Linked DNA regions of Homo sapiens: region 2 is linked to region 1. Evidence: fine-mapped expression QTL. Tissue or cell type: lung. Region 1 holds a variant in brackets; the other region holds the start of a gene. All regions are shown on one strand. Distances are from middle to middle.

Region 1 (11,270 bases):
GGCTGCACAAAACAACAGGTCCCTGGGCCTGGCCCACAAAACCATTCTTCCCTTCTAGGCCTCCAGGCATGTGATGGGACAGCTGCCACAAAGGTCTCTAAAATGCCTTCCAGGTATTTTCCCAATTATCTTGGTTATCAACATTTGGTTCCTCTTTACATATGCAAATTTCTGCAGCCAGTTTGAATTCCTCCCAGAAAATGGGTTTTTCTTTTCTACCACATGGCCAGGATGCAAATTTTCCAAACTATTACACTCTGCTTCCCTTTTGAATATAAGTTCCAGTTTCAGATCATCTCTTTACTCACACATAACAAAAGTGGCCTTGGCTCCATTTCTCAATAAGTTCCTCATCTCCACCTGAGACCTCCTCAACCCAGACTTTATTATCCATATCACCATCAGCATTTCGGTCACAACAATTTAACAAGTCTCTAGGAAGTTCCAAACTTGCCCTCACCTTTCTGTCTTCCTTTGAGCCCCCCACACTCTGCCCATTACCCAATTCCAAAGTCACTTCCACATTTTCAGGTATTTTTATAGGAATCCCCCACTTCTCTGGTACCAGTTTTCTCTATTAGTCCATCCTTGCACTGCTATAAAGAAAACTACCCAATAATGGGTGATTTATAAATAAAAGAGGTTTACTTGACTCACAGTTCCACAGACTGTACAAAAAGCATGACTGGGAAGGCCACTGGAAACTTAGGCAGAAGGTGAAGAGGAAGCAAGTATGTCTTACATGGCCAGAGAAGGAGGAAGAGAGACTGAAGGGGGAGGCACTACACACTTTTAAACAACCAGATCTTGTGAAAATTCACTCACTATCATGAGAACAACAAGGGGGAAATCCACCCCCATGATCCAATCACCTCTCACCAGGTCCCTCCTCCAACACTGGGGATTACAATTTGATATGAGATTTGAGCAGGGACACAAACCCAAACCATATCAATCAGTAATAAAAATTCTACCATCAAATCTGAGGACTGGGTGTCTGCACTGCTGAATTCTACCAAAATTCCCAAGAAGGACTAACACCAGTTCTCCTCAAACTATTCCAAAACATTGAAGAGGAAGGAATTCTTCCCAACTCATTATGTGAGGCCAGCATACTCTGGCCAGAGTGTCAGTACTCTGTCTGGTACCAAAACCAGACAGAGACACAATTTAAAAAAAAAAAACAAAAACAACTGCAGGCCAATATCCCTCATGAGATACAAGAATCCACAATAAAATAATAGCAAGCTGAATCCAACAACACATCAAAAAATACACCATAATAGAGCAGGATTTATCTCAGGAATGCAAGGGTTGTTCAACATGCACAAATCAATAAATGTGATACATCCCATCAACAGAATGAAGGACAAAATCTATATGATCATCTCAATAGATGCAGAAAAAGTATTTGATAAATTTCAACATCCCTCCATAATAAAAACTTACATGACAAACCCACAAAAACTTTATACTGTATGAGGAAAAGCTAAAAGCCTTTCCTCTAAGATCTGGAAGAAAAGGAAGCCTACTTTCACTGATCTTATTCAACATAGTACTAGAAGTCCTAGCCAGAGTAATTAGGCAAGAGAAAGGAATATAGGACATCCAATTCGGAAAAGAGGAAGGCAAATTGTCCCTTTTTGCAGACAACATGATCATGTTCATATGTATATGTACATATATACACATATATATATACCTAAAGATTCCACCAAAAATCTCTTAGGGTACAGGTAGTTAGGCATGAGTGGGAGAGGAGAGGGCTCTCCCCCCACACCCACTAGAAATGCTGGGAATGCTGGGTGATGGTTCAGCAATTGTCACATTGCTTCTCTAAAAATGATAATTCAGCAGCGCCAGGGAGAGGCCATTTCCTGATGATCCACACCTGTTAATATCAAAATGTTAACTGAATGCAGACCCCAGGGTAAGCAACTTTCTGGGCATGCATGTTAAGAGTAAAAATGGTGAAGTATGATCTTCCAGGGGCACACTACAACAGAAGAGGGAAGAAAGCCTCAGATGGGCATGTGTATAACCCCCTAAACATACTGTGCAAGCTCAATCCCAAAGGGTAAGGAAAGCACTGGGTACACAGAAAGCCCACTTTAAGGGAAGAATCATGGGAAAGAGGTGAACTTATAAAAGTCCTAGGATCACAGTTAAACAGAGCACTTGACCTTCTCCCTTTAACCTTTAAGGGCCCTCTTCCAAGCGCACTTTCCTTTATTTCCTGTTCTAAGGCCTTTTTGAATAAACCTCCATTTACACACTGGAATTTGCCTTGGTCTCTTTTTCTGCTTTATGCCCCTCAGTGGAATTCTTTCTTCTGAGGTGGCAAGAATTGAAGTTGCTATGGACCCTTATGGATAGGCTGCTGGTAACTCAGGGTAACTCGGACCTCTGCCACTGGTAACATTGGAACTGATAAATTCAGTGATGTTCAGGATATAAAATTAACATACAAAAATCAGTAGCATTTCTATACACCAACAATGAACTAGCTGAAAAAGAAATCAAGAAATTAATTCCACATAGAATAGCTACCAAAAACATAAAATACCAAAGATGACATTTAATCAAGGAGATAAACTATATCTACAATGAAAACTACAAAATGCTAATGAAAGAAATTGAAGAGGACACCAAAAAATGTAAAGATATCCCATGATCATGGATTTTAATGAATATTGTTAAAATAACCATACTACTCAAAGCAATCTACAGATTAAAAGTAAGTCCTATCAGAATACCAACATTCTTTACAGAAATAGAAAAAAAATGATAAAATTTGCATCGAACCAAAGACTTTGTGTAACTAAAGAAATACTGAGAACAAAGGACAAAATTGGAGGCATCACTCTACCTGACTTTAAAATATACTAAAAAGCTATAGTAACCCAAACAGCATCATATTAGTATAAAAATAGACACACACACCAATGGAACAGAATAGAGAACCCAGAAATACATTCACATATTTACAGCCTACTGATCTTTAACAAAGGCATCAACAACATACATTAGAGAGACAACACCCTCTTCAATTAGTGGTGCTGGAAAAACTGGATATCCATATGCAGAAGAATAAAACTAGATCCTTATCTCTCACCATATATGAAAAGCAACTCAAAATGTATTAAAGATTTAAATGTAAGACCTGAAACTATAAAACTAGAAGAAAATATAGGAGAACTGCTTCAGGACATTGGTCTAGACCAAGATTTTATGAGTAACTTCACCACTATGCAATCTATACATGTAACAAAGTTACACTTGTACCTCATAAATTTATACAAATAAACAATTTTATAGGTAAGATTTAATAGGTAAAACTTTATTTTATGGGTAAAGCACAGGCAACAAAAACAAAAATGGACAAATGGGACTATGTCAAACCTAAAAGCTTCTGCACAGAAAAGGAAACAATCAGCAGAGTAAAGAGACAGCCAGTTAAATGGGTGAAAATATTTGCAAACTATTCATCCAACAAAGGACTAATATCCAGAATACACAAGGAACTCAAACAACTCAACAGCAAAAACCCCAAATAATCCAATTTTAAGATTAGCAAAGTATCTGAGTACACATTTCTCAAAAGAGGCCATTTAAATGGTCAAAAGTATACTAAAAATCTTCAACATCACTAACACTCAGGGAAATGCAAATCGAAACCACATCTCACCCCAGTTAGAATGGCAATTATCAAAAAGACACTAGCAAATGCTAGTGAAGAAATGGAGAAAATGGAACTCTTATACACTATTGGTAGGAATGTAAATCAGTACAGCCATCACAGAAAACAGTATGGAAGTTTCTCAAAAAACTAAAAATAGAAATATCACATAATCCAGCAGTTTTGCTACTGGGTATTTATCCAAACAGAAGGAAAGCAGTATGTTGAAGACATACGTACATCTGCACACCCATTTTACTGCAGTGCTGTTCACAATAGCCAAGATAATGAATCAGCCTAAATGTCTATCAAAAAATGAATGGATTTTTTAAATGTGGTATATTTACACACTGGAATACTATCCAGCCAAAAAAAAAAAAGAATAAAGTCTTGTCATTCCCAGCAACATGGATGATCCTGGAGGAAATTATACTAAGAGAAATAAGTCAGAAACAGAAAAATACATATCACATGTTCTCATTTCTATACGGGAATTTAAAAAATTGAGCTGATATAAATGGGAAGAGTGGGCGGTCTGGAGAAGATAGAGGTTGGTTAACAATCTGAAGTTACACAGCTGATGGGAGGAATAAGTTCTAGTGTTCTGTAGCACTATAAGGTAAAGATAGTTAAAAACAATTAGTGTATATGTTTGAGAAGCTAGAGAAGAGAATTTTGAATGTCCACAACACAAAGAAGTATTACATGTTCAAGGTGATCATTATGCTAATTGCCTTTATTTTATCATTCCATATTGTATACATGTATTAAAATATTATTCTGTATCCCATAAACATATACAATTATTACGTGTCAATTAAAAATAAAAGAAAAAAGTAAAACTAGTCTAGCTAGAGACTGGGAGAAAATATTTGTAAAACAAAAATTAATTCAAGATGGATTAAAGACTTAAATGTCAGCCCTAAAACCATAAAAACCCTAGAAGAAAACCTAGGCAATACCATTCAGGACATAGGCATGGGCAAAGACTTCATGTTTAAAACACCAAAAGCAATGGCAACAAAAGCCAAAATTGACAAATGGGATCTAATTAAACTAAAGAGCTTCTGCACAGCAAAAGAAACTATCCTCAGAGTGAATAGACAACCTACAGAATGGGAGAAGATTTTTGCAATCTACCCATCTGACAAAGGGCTAATGTCCAGAATCTACAAAGAACTTAAGCAAATTTACAAGAAAAAATCAAACAACCCCATCAAAAAGTGGGCGAAGGATATGAACAGACACTTCTCAAAAGAAGACATTTATGCAGCCAAAAGACACATGAAAAAATGCTCATCATCACTGGCCATCGGAGAAATGAAAATCAAAACCACGATGAGATACCATCTCACACCAGTTAGAATGGCAATCATTAAACCTCTGGGGACTGTTGTGGGGTGGGGGGAGAGGGGAGAGATAGCATTGGGAGATATACCTAATGCTAGATGACGAGTTAGTGGGTACAGCGCACGAGCATGTCACATGTATATATATGTAACTAACCTGCACA[T/A]TGTGCACATGTACCCTAAAACTTAAAGTATAAAAAAAAAAAGTCAGGAAACAACAGGTGCTGGAGAGGATGTGGAGAAATAGGAACACTTTTACACTGTTGGTGGGACTGTAAACTAGTTCAACCATTGTGGAAGACAGTGTGGCTATCCCTCAAGGATCTAGAACTAGAAATACCATTTGACTCAGCCATCCCATTACTGGGTATATACCCAAAGGATTATAAATCATGCTGCTATGAAGACACATGCACATGTATGTTTATTGTGGCAGTATTCACAATAGCAAAGACTTGGAACGAACCCAAATGCCCATCAAGGGTAGACTGGATTAAGAAAATGTGGCACATATACACCATGGAATACTATGCAGTCATAAAAAAGATGAGTTCATGTCCTTTGCAGGGACATGGATGAAGCTGGAAACCATCATTCTGAGCAAACTATCTCAAGGACAGAAAACCAAACACTGCATGTTCTCACTCATAGGTGGGAATTGAACGATGAGAACACTTGGACACAGAAAGGGGATCATCACACACCGCAGCCTGTCATGGGGTGGGGGGAGGGGGGAGGGATAGCATTAGGAGATATACCTAATATAAATGATGAATTAATGGGTGCAGCACACCAACATGGCACATGTATACATATGTAACAAACCTGCACGTTGTGCACATGCACCCTAGAACTTAAAGTATAATAAAAAAAATAAAAAATAAAATATTTGTAAAACATATTTACAATAAAACACTTATATCCAGAATCTGTACATATTTAAAACTTGTAACTCAGTTAAGAAGAAGGTTTGAACAGATGTTTAACCAAAAGATATATACAAATGGCAAATAATTAAAAGGTTATTAATCATTAGGGAAATGCTAATTCAAATAAGATACCAAGCTGGGCATGGTGTCACACGCCTATAGTCCCAGCTACTTGGGAGGCCAAGGTGGGAGGACTGATTGAGCCCAAGAGCTCAAGGCCAGTTGGAGCAACAGAACAAGACACCATTTCTAAACTAAGTAAATAAATAAGATACCACTACACACTCTATTTTGTATTCTTTATGAGCCAGTCAGATGGGTTGGGTGCAGCCACAGGAGGAGACATAGAAGCTCAGAAAAAAAAAGTTTATTATACTCACAGGTCCTAGAGACAGGAGGCATGGCATGCCATGCAGGACCACATGGGAAAGACATCAGGTGGTCAGGAGGAAAAAGACAAAGGGAAGGGTTGGGATACTGCCTTTATTGAGGCTTCTGCAGAAAAGGCAAGGCAGTGCAGAATGAACAGTTTACTTTGTTATGGCAGCCCTAGCAAAGATATAAGTAGTAAGTGTGAAACAGCTTGGGAAGCTTGGGACCTTGCTAAAAAAGTAAGCCATCTACGATTTAGAGCCAAATCAAAGGTGAAAATAATAAAAGCTACAGGTATTTAGAAGAAGAGGGCATATGGTTCTTGTGAAGTCCCCAGGTAAGTCTTGATAAAGCAGGTAGAATTTGAGATAGAACTTAAAATAGACATGTTTGAGGTCAGTGGACAAGAACATATGAGAATAGTCAGGATAGAAAGTGGAACAATATTCATTAGTATCTATTCACCTACCATGAGCCAGGCACTGAGCTATGGTCCAGGAATATAGTGAACAAAAAGGGCATGGTTCTTGTCGTCTTGGTGTGCACAGCCTGAGATACAGCAGGATTGTATGGGACACCAGCATGCACACCGGCAGTGTTGGCACAGGACAAGTCACAGAGCTGTGTAGTCAGGACCTGTCTCTCTTGAACACTGGCTATCTTTGTACTATGTGATTAAGCACTTGATTTTGCTCTATGATTATTCCATAAAAGGGATTTGTCATCATTACCATTCTCAGCTGGATTTTCTTCTGCATCAAATATTGCACAAGAAGCTGGATTCCAAACTCCTGGGAGACAGTGGTGTTTATTCTCCTTTCTTATTTCTCCCATCTTAACAGATGCCAGGGGCAGTGACTCCCCATCTTGAATTCTTGGGCTACTCCCAGAATCAGCCATGTCTCTAACAACCAGAACTTGTGAGCAAGACTCATCCCCCTGGGTCTGCCTCTTCAGCACTCACTGTTGATGGTGACTTGTCTCATTGCTTGTACAGGTGGTGACAGTGCCAGAATATTTCAAGAATAGGTTTGGTAGCTATCAGAGTGAGATCCTTCTCTCCATTCTGTATTTATTCCTCTGTATCTTCAATAAGATACCAGTGAGTTGTGTAAAATCCAGCCCAAGAAACAGAACCAAGAAAAAAAAGCAAGAGGCAGGACTCAAGATTATGCTGGATTTGTCCCAGCGATTTACTCTGGGTCCTCTAAATTACTTGTTGGCCTTTGTTGTGAAGCCAGAGTAGAAAAAAATGACTTCACATTCACAAAAAATAAAAGAAGCATCTTCTTTACCTCCCAAGCCTAGGTTACAGGTCCCTCCTCTGTATTCCCAGGAACCTTGGGCTTACCCATCTCATATCAGTAGGTCATGTGCTTAAAAGAATCCAGGAATTTTCACCACCTGTACAAAACTTAAACTTGTTCTGGCTTTTAAAGGCTGTCCTGCGGAAGCCCCAGTCTACCTTTCTAAATGGATCTCCTTATTTCCTAATGGTTACACACTGTGCTCTAGTCACACTGCTTGCCTCATTGATTCTCAAGTCCAGCAAGCTTATTCCAAATCAAAACCCTCTAGACTTGCTCTGTACTGTGTCTGGAATGTTCTTCCCTCAGATCTTGCATGGCTAACTCCTTGTATTATTCCTTGAAAGAAAAATAGCACTTCCTTGAAGGGGCCTTCCAAGGATGCACCCAATTCATCTCTACTCCATTACTCAGGTCTTGGTTTTTGTCTTTAATTAGAGACAGGGTCTTGCTATGTTGCCCAGGCTGGAGTGCAGTGGCTATTCATAAATGTGATCATCATTCACTGCTGCGGCAGGCCAGGTCTCACTAACGCAGGCCTCTGTAACAACTGTTTCAGCACTGACTGAGTGGTTAAGTTAAATATTAAAAGCTGATAGAGCCAGTGCTCTAATACAAATGCTGGAATGTAACAAAGGCTCACCAAGAGTTTTGTCCAGGCCTTTCCTGGGCCTTGAAGCATGATGAGATAAAAAAGGAATTCTTAAAAGGACCCATTTAGAATTAAGCAAGTTTCATTGGGGGTCTGAAGAAACCCCCCAGGTCTCCACAAACAAGTTTATTGGAGGTCTGCAAGAACTCATCAAACCTCCATGATTTAGCAGGAGACAAGATAAGGGTAATTGCCCCAGCACCTGGGCCCATTTAGATTAAGAAAATTTACTAAGGCTCCAGAGGAAGGTCTTCAGGACTCAGATCTCAGTTACAGAATAAAAGTTAGCACTTATGTCTTTAGATAAATGCACACTTACACGTAGACATATAGCTTAGAAGGCACATAAGTTCTAGAAAACTGTAATTTTGAGTTAGTCCAAATTTTGATAATTTCCAGGCCTTCTCCCTGTAACCAGTTACATAAATAAAAAACTCTTCTTTCCCAGTTCATCTGCATCTCATTATTGGGCCACGAGAGTAAGCAGCCTGATCCTCGTTTTGGTCTAGGAACACTTGAACTTGAACTCCTGGGCTCAAGCAATCCCCCTCCTGAGCCTCCCAAGAAGCTGTGATTATAGGTGTGCACCACTGCACCCAGCTTCACTGCTGTTTTTATTTTCTGTGAAATGCCTGCCACCATGTGAAAGCAATTTATCTGCTTGCTTATCTGGCTTCTCCACTTCAGTGCAAGCTTCCTGAGACCAAGGGCCTCCTGCCTTGTTCACTGCGTTACCTTCCCCCTGTACTGAGAACATGTTTAGCACATAAGGTACTTCATAAATGTTTTCTGAATAACTGGAATAGTGGCACTTATCACACTGCATAGAAAATGCCTATTTTGTGGTTTGTCTCCATTAAACATAAGCTCTTGAGGATGGCAACTGAGTTTTGGTAACTTGTGTCTTCTGAACACTGCTGAGTGTCTATGACATGGTTGGCACTCAGTAAGTAGTTAGTGAATAAATGGATAGATGAATCTGTCCATTTTATCCCTGGCTTTGGAGATCAGAATAACAAAGCAAGGGGTTATCCAGTTAAATGATGTGCAGATGTTTCAAAATCAGTGTCAACTGAGCCAGGGGTCAACAAATCTGGTCAGCAGGCCAATCTGGATAATGATGGGCTTTGTGCAGCTCTGAAGCTAAGAATGATTTTTATAGTTTTAAAAGGTTGTAAAAAAAAAAAAAAAAAAAAAAAGAGAGATGGTATGTGACCAGCAAACTTGCCTTTACAGGAAAAGTTTGCTGATCCCTGAGAAGTCATTCCCGTTCCCTTTTTCCAGTGGTGGAACTGTAAAAACAACTAACTCTCTGAACTAATTCCCTCTCTGAAGCTCCAGAGTGGAAGAGGCTAAGTTGTGCCACTGGAAGAATGGGGTTAACTCAAGCCCTAAAAGTACTAACCTTGGCTGAACTCATGGGGCACAAGCCTATGCTCAACAAAACGGATGAACCTTACCCAGTGTCCACTGGTGATGTAGTGCTATTCAGATACCACCTCTGGTAGATGGCTTCTAAGGTCAGTGTCTTTGTGGAATCACTGTGGATTCAGTTGGAAGTGAAAGTGCAGCCTGCTGACTCCGTATTCATTTCAGTTGGAGGTTTGCTCTTCTGCCGTGTTCATGAAGATAGTTTAGGAAATGGGTGTTTAACTGATCACAATCTCGCTGAAAATTGCTGGCATTCATACCATCTCAGGTGAGGTTACTCTAACCACACAAGTACTTACATTGGCACACTCTACTTAGTGGATGACAGAGAAGTCATTCTACCTAAAGATAGAGAAGTCTATCTCTGTGAATGACAGAGATGTCATTCTACCTAACATCTCTGCAGTTTGTAGAAAAACTCTTTATAGAGTTTGTAGACATTGAAGCAGCAGTCTCCAGCTTTTGCACTTACCCTAAGTCTGTAAATGACATTGCTAAGACCTGAGGAGACTGAACAATGAAAAGAACAGAGACGGGGGGCCTAAGTAGTGTCCTCCCACTAGAAATCAGCTTGGGCTGGCTGGGTCCCTCCCAGGGGTCTGACAGGGACAACAGCGATTATGTCTGCGGTGGGGAGGGACACTGCAGGCCACCAGGTAAAAGACTGGGAGCACAGAAGACAAATGATGGGGAGGCAGCAGCCATGGGCCACCTGGTCAGGCCTGATCAGATGGAATCTTTTGTAGGGGCAGTTCTGTCCTAGGCAGCTACTGCCTAGGTTCTGAGAGTGGAAGCTCTCACCACTCCTTCTTTCCAGCAACAGTGCAAATCTCAGATGCTGGGTGTTTCCCTGGCAGTTCACCAGAGACCAAGGGGAAAGAATCAAAGTGAGGCACAGAATGCCCTCAATCAGTGGTTCACAGTGCAGAGGAGTGGGAATTGGATTTTTCTTCCCAGAGGGCACTTGGTAATGTTTGGAGGCATTCTGGGTTGTCACAGCTGGGCCAGGGGGAGCTCTGCTGGCTGTTAACTGTTGCTTCCAGGTCAGGTGCAGTGGCTCATGCCTATAATCCCAGCACTTCAGGAGGCTGAGGCAGGAGGATCCTTTGAGCTCAGGAGTTTGAGACCAGTGTGGGCACCATGGCAAACTCTGTCTCTACAAACATTTTTAAAATTAGCCAGGTGTGATGACACACACCTGTAGTCCCAGCTACTCAGGAGGCTGTGGGAAGACTGCTTGAGCCTGGGAGATCCAGGCTGCAGTGAGCTATGATCATGCCATTGCACTCCACCCTGTCTTAAAAAATAATGATAAAAATTTTTAAGAAAGGGAATTAAAGGGAAATTAGGAAATTGTGACACAGAAGGGCAAGATAAGAATCCAACAAGAGATCATGAAGGACATTAAAGAGAGAAAACAGGATGGACTAAAACTAAGCATAAGTCACTCACTGAATTAAAGAGATCAAGCGCCTGAATGTGGAGAACTGGGGGTGTGGTGGGGAGTATACAGAGTACTTGATGTGGGAGTAACTTTCAGAAGAGTGAGTC
Region 2 (8,000 bases), 64 kb after region 1:
AAATGCTTAGCACAGGGACCGGGGTTCATTTTGAGACAGAGGGAGAAGATTAAAAATAAAACGCGTGCCGGGTGTGCCTTTCTGCTCGTTCACTTTGCTTCTTTTCAGCTAAAAGAAGAGTCTCGGGCCTGGCTATTTATAACTAACCCAGATCTGCGATGGCTTGCTCAAGTGGGGGTGGGGCACACAGACCCCAGGGAAACAATCGGGGAAATCCACCCAACTGGGCGGCAGCCTGAGCGTCCGCTGGGGGTGGGGGGTGGTTGCAGAAGAGGTAGGACAGGTGGGGCACAGAGAATCAGCCAGATGGGGTGGCACCAGAGCAGGCCAGGCTCTGGGCCATCCATGGTTTAGAGACAAGCAACATATGCCCACCCCACCCCCGGGAAGTGGGAAAACTAGTGGAATAGTCAGCTGGGGACAGGTCACTACAGAACAGGTTGACATGTGTGTAGACCAGGAATTCCAGGGTCCTAGGGGCTCTGGAGGTGCACAAAGGGAGGCCCCGGGGAAGCTGGTTCTCATGGATGTGGAGGAGAGCCCAGAACAGCAGGGCTCAAATGTATGTGTTTGTGGGGAGTCCCCGATCTGGCCTGGCTGATATGTAGGGGCTAGGATGGGTTCAGTGGTTGATGAGCCAAAGAGATCCAATGGGATTGAGGGGTCACGGATGTCCATGGTGTGGAGCCCCAGTGGTGGAGTCTGGGTCATTTTCTTTGTGGTGGGGCAGGGCGGGTGCTGACACCATGTTGAGGGGCCACTCCTCAGCCAGCTGTGCCTGCTGGGTTGGGGAGGTGCTGAGTGGGCTCAGTCACCACCATGGCCCCCTTCCTCTGGCTACAGCAAAGCCCCAGCTGTTGTCTCCCAGCCAATGAGGGCTCAGGACAGAGCACCAGCACCCAGGTTCTGGTCGCAGCCACACCCTTTCCTGTTAGGGGACTGCACATCCACACATGGCATCTGGGGCCCACCTTGCCGCAGGTGACCCACCTGTCCAGCTTTAGCCTTGCATGGCCCTGTGCCCTGAACTCCTGGCCCACTGGGCCTGCCTTTGCTCCAAGGGGTGCTTCTCTGTCCTCAGCTTTCTCGGCTTCCAGGTAGCTGGGAGCATGGTTAACAGCTTCTTCCTTTACCACATGCTCTCTTCCCGTGCCTCTGGTACCCTCCATTCTCTGGTTCCTGACCACCTCCCCAACTGCTCCTCCATCTTTTTGGTAAGCACCATCTCTTCCTCCAGTGGTCCCCACCCTCTCCCCTTCTCTCATCTCCCTGGGTCCTGATAATGCCCCGCCACTGTCTCCTAACATGCTCTTGGTCTCCCTGCCATCTCACAGCCACAGCAGACCGTACACTGAACTCAGCCTCACAGACTGACTTCTGTGCTCACTCCCACTTCCTCTGGACTGACTAACTGATGTTTTTGTTATTTTATTATGTCCAGTAGGACAACTCACATTGTCTGTGGGACCACGCCTACTGTAAACAGGCAATTAAAAACTTCTCCTCCTCCTTCTCAAATTTAAAAGACTAATGTTAAAACTCTCGAGCAGTTCTTAGGCCAACGTCCCTGATCCTACTGCCCCAAGCTGGCATCTGTGCATGGGCAACGACCCTGGCCCCAGCCACACTGGTCTTCTCTGGGTTCTTCCTGGCCTCGTGCTCCTTCATGTCCTGCACCGTCCCCGCCTTGGAACTCACTTCCCTCCCACCCTATGTCACTGGCCACCTCCACGCCTGCTATGGCCTCATTCCAAGCATCTCTTCCTTTGGGAAGCTGGCCCAATGCCCAATGCTCCCCCACTCCACATGCCCCCAGAGCCCCAGTGGGTCTCCTCAGATAGCCTCACATGACTGTAAGGCCCAATCGTTGTTTGCTTTCTGCCCCTGCCCTACAGGCAGAGGGTCTGCCAGAAAAGGGCCGGTCTGAATCCTAGAACTGTGCCTACAACTATACCCTGGTGGAGGAGGCTATCTGTAAGTGACTGCTGCATGAATACAATATTGGTTTGATGCCAGGTGAGATGTCCCTCTCTTACTTTGAGGTCAAGTCAGGGAGGTGTCAGCCAGCCCCAGTGGACCCCTCCGCAGGCTAGCCTCTGCTCTGGACCACTGGAAAGGGCCATCTCACTGTTGCATGTGGGCTTACCTCTGCAAACAATTCAACTCTGACCCCCAGACTCTGCAGTGGAAACAGCCTCTGGCTATCCCAAGACATGCTAATATGCATTTCCTATAAACATTAACCCTCAGAGCCACCCTCTGACCACAGTCTGTTACATTCCCTTTTGACAGAAGAGGAAACAGAGGCTCAGCCAGGTAGCACAGCTGCCGGTCTCTGTGTGGTCCTCCTGGCAAGAGGTCCAGCCTGACACAGCCTGGTGGTGTGGAAGGCAAGCACAAAGGGTAGCTAGCCCCTCAGCCATTGGCTGAATTCCCTTGGTCCTCACTGGACACCTCCAGTGAGCACTAAGTTCGCCTCCATGATGCCCATAACAAATATACGTCCTGTTCCTGACAGTTGAGGCAGCACCCTCACAGGTGGCCCATGACCCTGCAGGTACGTAACGCAATGGTCTCCATCTCACAGAAGAGGAAACATTCCTAGGGAGGTTATGGGATGATGCTGAGATGCCACAGTGTCCAGCTGGCAAAGCCAGGCACATGCCCCTGCCCCTCCACCACAGAGCTATGATGGAGAGACCGCTCCATGGACCTCTGCCATGGTCAGGTCCAGGGCTGCTGCTCAAAGAATGGCATGATCCACACCTTACAAAGGTGTGAGGTGATAAGGAACGCGTTAGCTGGGAAGGCATTTGCACTTTGTCAGGGATGCTCTAGGATACACAAAGCTTCAGATTTACAAAGATGGAGAAGAGAGACAGGAGCATTCATGTCTTGGCCCTCTGGCTTGAGAGTCTTTTAAGCATGGAACTGAGGGACTCCTGGCCCTGAGGTCCACAGATAGGCTTTGAAATTGAAAACAGAATTTTGCAGCCTGGGTTCAGCTGCGTTTTGCTGAGGGTCTGATGCTTTCCACCAGCTTCCCAAAAGCGCCAATCAGTGGCCTTAACTGAACTGGCTCTCTCACGCTTGTCTGGGCTGGGGGCCAGCTCCTCGGTCCTTCTCCCTTCCTTCCCTCCCAAGGCCACCCTTCCGTGTGCCAGGATTGCCAGGGACGCCAAAGAGCCCCTAGACACTGGGCGGTGGCGGCGGGGGGCGGCGGCAGAGATGACTAATGCTCCCTCCCATCGCTGCACAAACCTCACCGGTGTAAATCGTTAGGGTTTGCATAGGCCTTTCACACGTTCTGAAGGATTGGTGAGACAATCCAGGAAAGCAGGTGCCACTAGCCCCACTTTGCAAACAGAAAGGCTGAGAGAGGTCAGTCGGTTGCCCAAGGACGTAGAGCTCACAAGAGGCCGAACTGGGTTTGAACCCGAGTGGAGAGAAGGCGAGCCGGGACTGGCTGCAGTAAAGAGGGCCAGGACCATGGCTGGGCTCAGGCTTGGTTTCCCGGGCTGCCAGAGGTGGCCCCTGGGGCTCGGCTACCAGGCCTCAGCGCAGCGGAGTCGGTGGAACGCCGGCGCGGGGAGCTCTTGCGGGACTGCGGCGCGCGCGGAGCTGCGACCCCGCCCCTGTCCGTCCCCATTGGGCTACTGGCCCGTCCGTCAGCTGCCTGTGCCCAATGGACAGAGGGCCGGCGCTCGTGGCGGGGCGGAGGTGCCCGGCGCGTGGTGCCCGGCGGGCGCGCGGCACCCCCCCGCCCGCGGTTGGCCTGGCAACGGGCTGCGCTCGCGGCTCCGCCCCCTGCCGGCGGCGGCGCGGCGCGGGGCGGGCGGACCCGCGGACTGGCGGCGGGCGGCGGGCGGCGGGCGGCGCGGGAGGGCGGGCGGAGGGAACCAGGCCGGCCGGAGCGTGTGCGCCGCCCGCGGTCCGGTCACGTCCCCGCGTGGGCGCCGCTGCCCGCGTCGTACGGAACGAGGGCGCCGCGGCCCCGTGCTCGCCGCCCCGCCCCGCCCCGCCCTGCCCGGAGCAGCTCGGCAGATGCTCTGTGCTGCGGCCCGGAGGTGAGTGAGCCGACCCGCGGCCGGCCGCGCGCCGCTGAGCCTCAGGGGTCGGGGGCACGGCCGGGGCATCCACCTTGCCCCCACTTGGGACTCTTCCCAGGCCTTTGTGCCCCGGATCCGCCAGGACGCAGCGTCAGGGATGCCCCTCAGGGGTGGGGGACACCAAGGGCGGGGACGCCTGCGAGGTGGGCAGGGGGCGGCCTCTGGTCGGGCAGGTGCTGGGGGAGGGATGCGCCGCCAAGCCGATGACCCCGCGGGAGGGGGCGGTTGAGGACCCGGGAGGGTGGACAGAGGGCGCCGGGGATGCCGCGCGGGGCCGCCGGGCGCCCCCAAGCAGCGGCTGATGCGGAGCCCGGGCGGGCCAGGCGAGCTGCGGGAGCGGCGCTGAGGCGGGTCTCCCTAGGGGGAGGATCAGGGAGGGGCGGCCGGAGCCGATGCAGGGCCTTGCCTGAAACCGAGGAGAGGGCCCCAGAGGCCTGGGCCCGAGGACCTGGGCCCGCAGACGGACAGCTAGCAGTTCTCGGTCACTGCTCTTGCAGCGAGCAGGTTCCTCACAGGCATTTAGAGGAAGAGATGAGTATCGACCTGCTGCGATTGTAATACGTTCCCGGCTCAATATTTTTTCCCTTAAAAGGCGGTGGGGGTGTTTGGGGGAGGGGAGTGAGGGCCTCAGGGCTGGCGCTCCGTATCCTGCGGGCGATCCGAGGGGGCTCTGCCTTTAGGGCGGTGCTGAGCCTTCCTGGGTGATGATGGCAGGATTCGGCCTAGGCCGAGAATGGGGGCTCCTGTTAACTGAGACAAGAGGATGATGCCAAGCGAGACCAGCGTTCCGCGTAGTCCGTGTTGGGGTGGAGGGACCCGCCTGGTAGAGAGGTCTGTCTTGCTTGGGGAGACAGCTGAGCCCCTGACCGGCTCCTTTCTGCCCAAGTGATTTCCCTGCCCTGGGGATTGAGCTCTCTGGAGAAGGCTCCTTGGCCAAATTCAATTAAGCAAATATTTATTGAGTGGTCACTCCCCCAGAGCTTGACGCTGGGGTGCACCGGGTGGGAGTGGACTGGGCCTGCCCTCCCAGGACTGATTGACCACCGCATAGGGGAAAACGTCTCTACTCGACCAACCCCGCTTGAGTGCAGGTGCAGGGGCCTCGGGAGGGACCTCAGAGTGGTGTCCTGGGCTGGGGGGTCAGGTGAGCTCGTGGGCAACATGACATTTGAACTGGAGCTTGAAGGACATGGGCACAGCTAAGCTGGGCATTGTGGGCAGAGAGGAGAGAATAGACCGAGGCACTTGGGCAGTTAGGTCTGATGGGAGCACTTAGCATGCCTGGGGAGTAGGAGGAGGTATGGCGGGAAAGGCCGGTGGGGGCTGCACGGGGCTGAGGGAGCTGGGAAGTGGAATGACCCCACTGCTGGTTAACTGTGGCTATGGTGGAGACCACGGCTTCCTCATCTGTAAAAGCGAAGCAGTTCCATGACCCCATGAGCTGGGGTGGGCCTGGAGAAGAGCTAGCTTTAAAGACTGGGGAAGGCTCCTTGCAGTCTGAGACTGTGCTTCCAGGCACTTCTCCCTCGGGCACAGCCAGGGCACTGGGTAACCACCCAGGCAACCCCCTTGTTAGGATTGAGTTGCCTGTTTCGGGGATGATGCTTAGCTAGTGACTCTGTGCCTCTGGGATGTGGATGTTTGAGAGCAGTAATCGTGGCAGCCTGGGAGCATCCATCTACGGGGTGCAGTGGGGGTGTGGATGGCCTGGCGGTGCTTGGATAAAATATGCGCCTTGAGCAAGCCTCATTCTCTAGGAATGAGGAGATGCTGGCATCTGGTTTAAAAGTCTTCCTGTGTGTTCCTCTAACTGACGTTGATTTTCTGAGACAGGAGGTGAATAAGACATAATTTCTCCCCCTCGGAAATTGGTGTCACTTTCCCCCCTAAGTCAGCTCCCTCATTTCTGGGGATGTTTTTGCTCTCCCTCTGAAGGGGCTGTTTGTTACTCATCTTTGTAGTGTGCCTACCCTCCCCACCCAACACACACTTGGCTTTGGCCAAGGCCCAGGTTGATGCAGCGAGAACAGGGCCTGCCCTCGTGGGGTGTGCAGTCTGTGCTGAGCAGGGTGAGCTGCTGTGCTCTGTGCCTGTCGCCTGGACTGTTGCAGGGACCTGGCATGTGACTGTGGGTTTGGGACACAGGGAATGGATTCTTCCCTCTGTCCCCAGCCTCTCAGTCCTTTTGTTTTCTAGAATCTCAGGAGGAACCTCAGAGACCTGGAGGCCCCACCAGAGTGGCCAGAACCTGGTGCAGGAGTATGGGTGGGGTCTCAGTCTGGCCCTCAGGAGCTTCTAGAACAATTCCAGGAATTTGCAGGTAACTGGATTGACTTCACAAGGGCTGCCCAGGGCCCCCGCAGAGAGGCCAGTGGGACAGGAATGCTGAATATAGCAATTCAGGAATGCTGAATTTAGTCATCTTGTGTGTGAACACATGTGTGCGGCTTCCTCCCCTGGAGGCAAGGAAGGCAGCCCTGTGCTGTCTGTCCCACGCTAGCCTCAGAATACTTAAGACGGTGTGTGGTGGCAAAGGCACTCTCACTGCTGCTGACCATGGCAGGTGCACGGGCACACTGGAGGAGGCAGGTCAGCATGCTGCTCTCCCGAACCCTCCAGCAAGGAAACCTGGGGTAGCCAAGCCTCTGAGCACCTGTGAGCACTGTGCTTGGCTGGAAGGAGCACAAAGCGAAATGAACAGAGGCGTCAGTGCAGATGCCAAGGGTCAGCCCCAGGCAGAATCCCAGAGCAGAGGCTATGCTGCGGCCTGGGCAGAATGAAGAGGGACGTGGGAGCACCCAGACTGTTGTGGCTCCGGGGTGGTGAGGTGAGCATTCCAGTCTAGGTGGCAGAAGACCTGGAGTCAGGTCCTGGTCCCACCATCCTAGGTCCAGCCCCTTTTTCTCTGAACCTCATTATCCTCATCCATACCCAAAGCCAAGAGTGCCCTGCCCTGTCCCCACACCAGCCCCTGCCACACATTTTGGCCCTTTCGTGCGAACACCGCCAGGGGAGGCGCTTCACAGGATTGAACCAACAGGGACCGCTTGACAGATCCTAGAGCACATAGGAGGAGACATCAGCCCTCTGGACTGAGCCGGAGGAGCAGAACCTCACGCGATTCATCCATTCATTTGTTCAGCTAACATTTACCAGCGCCTGCTGCATGCCAGGCACTGTGCCAGGTGCAGGGGTACAGCAGGGACGTAGCATCCACTCACAGTGCTCACACCAGACGGGCAGGGGTTGACAGTAACACATGTTACTAAGTGCTGCACTGTGGAGAACACTAAAGCAGAAGGTGGGGGACACGAGATGGGGGTGGGGGACTGACACAGTGCCATGCAGAAGTGCTGGGTGAGTGGTGTGGCTGAGCAGGGGAGAGACAGCAGGTGCAAAGGCGCTGAGCAGACACTCCCTGGCCCCTGGAGGCCCCACCAGAGTGGCTGGAACCTGGTGCAGGAGTGTGGGTGGGGTGTCAGGGCCAGGTCCTGCAGGACTCAGTGGGCCCCAATGAGGCAGGAAGACCTTGGCAGGGTTGGAGCAGAGAAGAGACTGGAGCTGCCCTCCCAGGAGGAGCTAATCTACACTTTGAAAAGATCTCTCTGCTGAGGTGGGAAAATAGGCTAGGGTGGGGTAAGGCTGGGGGCCATGAGGGGCTACTGCAACATCCCAGGCAGAGAGGCTGCTGACCCAGGGGTGGGAGCTCTGGAGGCCCTGAGAAATGCAGGTGGGAGATTTGTTTTTTTAAAGCTGCAGCTTTTAAAGGACAGCTGCAGTTTTGGTCTGAACCAGTAGAAAGATGGAGCTGGTATTGGCTGAGAAGCAAGATACAGAAAAACCCATTCTGGAGAGGTGGGGAATTAGGAGGTGGGTCTGAGACCTGGAGAG

What was found. PIP is the estimated chance that this variant, and not a neighbour inherited with it, causes the effect.
Region 2: GNAZ starts here. The variant in region 1 is fine-mapped to the expression of GNAZ in lung (TOPMed, PIP above 0.99).

Annotation. Positions count from the first base shown.
Region 1 is chr22:23,000,928-23,012,197 of GRCh38, forward strand. No RefSeq gene overlaps it. Among named protein-coding and RNA genes, the nearest start is that of GNAZ, 64 kb to the right of the region's middle. The variant T/A (reference allele first, on the strand shown) is at 5,193.
Region 2 is chr22:23,066,504-23,074,503 of GRCh38, forward strand. GNAZ (G protein subunit alpha z) reads left to right here and starts at 4,016. Exons shown (of 3, transcript NM_002073.4): 1 at 4,016-4,067. The region is part of intron 4 of RSPH14 (radial spoke head 14 homolog); the gene reads right to left. RefSeq lists silencers at 3,691-3,830, 3,971-4,110 and enhancers at 4,717-5,597, 5,598-6,479.